Linked DNA regions of Homo sapiens: region 1 is linked to region 2. The links come from fine-mapping of genetic effects on gene expression. A gene starts in region 2. The other region holds a variant in brackets. All regions are shown on one strand. Distances are from middle to middle.

Region 1 (3,023 bases), 340 kb after region 2:
CCTGCAGATCACAAAATCCCAGACTGTCAGACCACAAATACTCTTAGTTCCAACTCTACCATTGGAGATACAGGGAAACTGAGGCTCAGAGGGGCAAAAGAGATTCCATGGCATCTTACTCCTGGCCTATGGTTTTGCTTTTTTTCATGAAGAATTTTTGGGATTCTAGAAGCTGGGATAGTAAGGAACTTTAGAGATCATCTAATTCAGACTCGCATTAAAGATGGCTATGTTCTAGAACTCAGCCGGCCACTTCAGACAATAGGCATGGTGCTCTGATCATCCCTGGAGAACAAACTCACATGAGATATGCATACAATTGCGTACCAGTGACAGCAGATTAAGAACCTGGCCACAGTTATTAAGGATCTACTATAGGCTAGGAAGTTGACAGAAATTATTTCAACCTATATTCTAAACTATCTTTTGAAGGCCATTATAATTATCCTCACTTTATGGTGGAAGACACTGAGAATCAGAAAGGTTAAGTAATTTATTCAAAGTCACAGCAGTAGTAAGTTCAGAATATGGGATTTGAACCCAGGTCTCTGAGACTCAAAAAAAGCATGATTGTGTCATTAACTCCTCATGGTGTTTGTATGAAGACAGAGAGATTGAAAAATGTTGAATTTTACCTCTTTATTATCCCTAATGGTGGAGGAGGTGGTGCTGAAAGGCTGATTGTAGAGTTATCAATCTTATCTATCTTTTAGCGTAAGTTCCTGCTTTCATTGACCATCTTCCCAGACTAGGTCACTTTCTCCTATTACACACCTCAGTATTTCCCTTCACAGCGCTTTTCACAGTAGTGATTTAATTGCCAATGTAATTATTTGGTCAATACTTCTCTCTGTCAATAGACTATAAGACCCATGAAGGTAGGGACTGAGTTCAGAGTCTATCTTGGTCACCACTACATCTTCTGTGCCTAGCACAGGGCCTATACCAAATATGTGCTCATAGTATCTGTGGAACAAATAGATGAATGGTTGGACGGATGGGTGGATAGATGCATGGATGAATGGAAAGATGCATACATAGATAGAAGGATGAATGGATGAATGGACGGACGGATGGATGGATGGATGGATGGATGGATGGATGGATGGATGGATGGATGCCTGCATGCATGCATGCCTGGATGGGTGGGTGGACGGACAGATGCATGGATGGATGGATGGATGGATGGATGGATGGATGGATGGATGCATAAATGGATGGTCAAATGTATGGATGGTTGGATGAATGAATAGATGAATCTCAGCTCACTGATGTCCTGAAATGTGCAGTGACCCAAAGCCCTGGGCTCTGAGAACCAAAGCAGACAGGACTTTGTTTTTGTTTCTGAACACTGCCTGTGTGGTGAGTCACCCAATTTTTGAAAACCAC[A/C]TGCTTCTTTCCACAATCAGGCTGCCCAGAGGGGCCCCCAAGCCTCAAAGAGCATCAGGAAAACACTGCTCACACGCACAATTACTGCCAGTTTCTTATCGTTGCTGCTTTGATGTGCTGTTTGTGAGTCAGAGCTGCTGTTGCCTCAATGCTGTTCCTGTTTCAGCAGCATTCTGACATTTTTTTTTTTTTTTAAAGAAAAAAGTCGGAAGTGGCAGACTCTGTCTTTGGGCTAGGACTACAGACTGTTATTTGATTTGATTACTGCTTCATTTGATTATGGATGGACTCGGGATTGAGGGGGATAAGGATATCAAAGAGAAAATGGTGGCCATATCCCACCTACGCTAAAGTAAAGAGTACCACTCCAGCCCTTTGGAAGAGAACATCCCCAACTCTTCCCCAGCAGATCCACTATATGGAACCCACTGTGGTCAGACTGGGGTCTGGCTATTTCCTGCCACACCCTGAACTTTCTCACTTCCTTTCTTACCTATACATTTCCAGTTGCCAAGAATGTCACCCCTCTCCCCATCTCCACCTCTCAAAAATACCATGCAGCCTTCCAAGGCTAAACTCAGTTACAGCTTTCTCCACTGAGCCTCTTCTGTTCACTGCAGTCAACAGTCTCCTGACCTGCCTGCTCTTTGAGATCTTGTAACATTCACTTCCCATGTGCTAATTTACTCATGTTACTATCTGACGATAATGTGCATTTTGCAATGTTCTGTTGCAATTTAAAGGAAGAAAGTTATGATGTCTTGAGGATAATGGCACTCTTGGGGCCAAAAGAAAGAAGCTGGAGTCCAACTAAGCTACTTTCTTCCTATCTGATCTCTGAGAAGTTATTACCCTCAGTTTGTTCATCAGTAAAATCAGGGTTTTTCTAGACTTGAATATCAGATAAGATAATCGTCCTAAACATGCTTTGTAAACTGTACAATTGTGGTGTATATGAAGAATAATTAACATCATCTTCATCCTTTCCATCATTACTGTCAGCATCATCAGCATCATCACTGCACTTCTATTTCACTTCCCATGTGTTAACATACCTGGATAACACATATTTGTTATCTCCTAAGCTGGACTGTGGGTCTCTCATGGTTAGGGACCTAGCGGCATACCTCTGAACCTCCTTATCTTACACATAGCACAGGGCTGGGTACACCGTTGATATCCAGTGACTGTTTCTCAATTGATTGATAAACTCAGATGAAAATAACTCAATAGGAGAAAGCTATATATGACAAGGAATCTTTCAGAGGTCCTGTTTTATTTCTTCCTTTGTTGTAAAAATAACAAATGGAAAGAAGTACATTATTAAAGTCAGCAACATCTCTCCCCGCACCTGACAAGAATGGTCTTGCACATTTTTTTTGCCATATCCCTTGACAGCACCAGGACACTTCTCATTCCATAGTCTCATCCAACCTTCAAGAGAATCCTTGAAAAGGAAACAGGGAACCGCAGGTGCATAACGTCCCATTCTACAGTCAAGTGAAGTGAGGCCCAGCAACATGATCTCACTTACTCCAAGATGGAGCATTGAGTCATTGGTAAAACCCCGCCCATGAAGGAGGTCTCCTAACTCTTGGCCCTTGGATGTTTTGAGGTGGACACTGATTCCACTG
Region 2 (2,500 bases):
GGGAGCAGGCTGAGCAAACCAGGTGGGAACTCGGAGTTCCCGGGCCTCGGCCGAGCAGGGTCCCGACCCCATCCCCAACCCCCTCAGCCTGGGGATGCAGTGAGGAGCCCGCGCGGCGAGGCTGCGTCGAGGGTGAAGTTGTGCCCACGGGGAAGGCGCCCCGAATGGGGCCAGCCGTGGCTGAGCCTGTTGTCCACGGGCAGCCGGGCCCTTCCATCTGCGCTGCCCGCCTAGCCAGAGTCCCTCAGACTTCTCCTCGCAGGCAGCCGCCGCACATCAAAGGAGCTGTTTATTTGGCTTTCTGAAAAGAAGGGCGAGTGAACAAAGGAGAGCTGGGGGCTAATGTGGGGGAGGCGGGCAGAAGAAGGGGTGAAGAAAAGGGGACATCCTGAGTTCCGAGCAAATTTTTAAAGGTCGGAGGCAACTTTAGGAGCCACCGTTTTATCAGTCCTAAATCTTTTGAAGTGAAAACATTAAAGTGACAAAGTGATTGTTTGTTTTATAGTATCTAATTGGGCTGCTTTGCAGACCTAATGAGATTAGAGGGAGGAATCGTTCGCCGCCGCTGCAGAATAAACTGATACATTACTACCAGCCACAGGTTTTGAAGATTGTACAGCTTGTCTTATTTTCTTTTGTTGTTATTCCTCTGTCTTCCCTCTTTCCTCCTCCCGCTAAATAATTATTTGCTAGTAGACCGTGGGAAAAAAAAGGAGGAAAAAAACTCGAGCAGCCCAGGACTATAATATATATCTATTTATTATATGTCTTTCGGTTAATTCCTGATCTGAGGAGCGCTGTTTTTCACTCCCATGCGAAAGTCACCAGCGGGTAGGGCCTGATTGCTACTTTTCATGCATAGTTTTAGACACAAGAGGGCATTGTGACGTCGCGCCCAGCGGCACCCAGTCGTAGGCCGAGTCCCGCAGCCCCACGTGGGGGCCCCGCGCTCCCATTGGCCAGCGCCGGACGAAGCTGCCACATTATTTTGTTACTTTTCAGTCCCTATTTGGAACTGCTCTCGCGGCAGTTCAGACCTCGTGCTCGTCCCCTTCGCCTGTCTGTGTGTGGTATCCGTAGGTCCGGGGCACTTTTTTTTTTGGTGTGTGTGTGTGTGCGTGCGCGCGTGTGTGTGTGTTGGGTGTGTGTGTTTTGGGGGTTTGCCGGGGCGCGGAGAGGAGAGCCGGGCCGAGGGGAAGGAAGGAAGCCGTAGAGCTCCCCGGTCTCGGGCTGCGTCTCCCCTCCAGCGCTCTCCTGCCTGTGCGCTCCGACGCGGCAGCGGCGGTGGCGCTGAGCGCTCCTCGGTGGGGACGCGGTGCTCAAGCTGGGAGCAGCGAGAACCCTTTGCGGAGGCTTCCCGTGCCCGCTGGACTTAGGATGCCAGGGCGTTTGATTTGCACCTACTGAGCCCGGAGTTCCTCCCCGGCCCTGGGAAGGGCTTGCAGCGGCGGCGGCGGCGGCGGCAGCGGCAGTAGCAGACGGAACAGCAGGCTCTCCTCTCCGAGGGGGGGCGTCGAAGCGCCCGCGCCGGGCTCCCGCCCTCACCCTCCGGCGCTCCTGCGGCCCCAAGCCACCACCTCGTAGCCCGCCTCCTTCCTCTTCTCGCCGCGAGCCCCAGGCCCGGACGCCTCTAGGATCGGACCCGCGCGCCCCGGATGCTTGGGGCTGCCCCGGCGCGCCCCCCTACAGGCGCGACCCGCTGAGTGACCCGGAGGGGGCCCGAGCTCGCCCCAGGAGGGGCCCCCGGCCTCGGGACCCCGCGCCGGACCTGCTGGGGAGCCGACGATGTCCGCGCAGTCCCAGGCATTGACGCGCTCGACGCAGCCCAGGGAAGGCGGCCGGCCGCTGCCCGCCGAGCCCTAGGCGCACAAAGCCCGCGCCCGCCGCCCGGCCCCGGCGCCCGCCGACGACTTTGCCGCCTGCTCCGCGGCTCTTTGTCTCCACTTGGGGCGGGCGCCCGACTCTGGGATTTCGCTGCGAGAACGAGCTGGGGGGGCCGGGGGCGAGCTCTCGGTTTCCCGGCCGCCCCCCGCTCGGGCTCGGCTCCCCCCTCCCCCGCACCTCCCCGGCCCGGGCTCTCGGCGCTTCCACGCTCTCGGAATCACGACCCCTCCCTGCCATGTATCCGCAGGGCAGACATCCGGTGAGTAATTGCAACTCGGTTTATTTAAGCATCTATCATGGCAGGGTAAACGAGGCAGTTTATCTGGCACCTCCATTTTGCTTGTTGCTACCTTTATGGTGTGTGTGTTTGTGTGTGTGCTCTCACACAAAGGGGGATGCGGCCGGGGGGCGCCGTTGAGAGAGGAGGTTAATTCCGCGCGAGTGGCGCGGGGGGCTGCTTGTGTTCCAGGGGGAGCTGTTCACGCGGTCCCCGGCCCCGCTCTGAAGTCTCCCAACTCACCCGGCTTGTCTCCCGCCCCCGCCTTACTGGGGAGAGGGAGGCCCTTGGTGAAAGGCATGGGAGCCCCGCTGCCGACGGGGAGAGATGGGGCGCCCC

The links. PIP is the estimated chance that this variant, and not a neighbour inherited with it, causes the effect.
Region 1: its variant is fine-mapped to the expression of TLE3 in whole blood (TOPMed, PIP above 0.99).

The regions. Positions count from the first base shown.
Region 1 is chr15:69,759,501-69,762,523 of GRCh38, reverse strand. The region is part of intron 2 of LOC107984788 (a long non-coding RNA gene); the gene reads right to left. Among named protein-coding and RNA genes, the nearest start is that of LINC00593, 74 kb to the left of the region's middle. RefSeq lists an enhancer at 1,522-1,591. The variant A/C (reference allele first, on the strand shown) is at 1,390.
Region 2 is chr15:70,096,418-70,098,917 of GRCh38, reverse strand. It overlaps TLE3 (TLE family member 3, transcriptional corepressor), which reads left to right and starts at 1,001. Exons shown (of 20, transcript NM_001105192.3): 1 at 1,001-2,143. The coding sequence starts at 2,120. RefSeq lists an enhancer at 1-743 and silencers at 1,563-1,732, 1,743-1,862.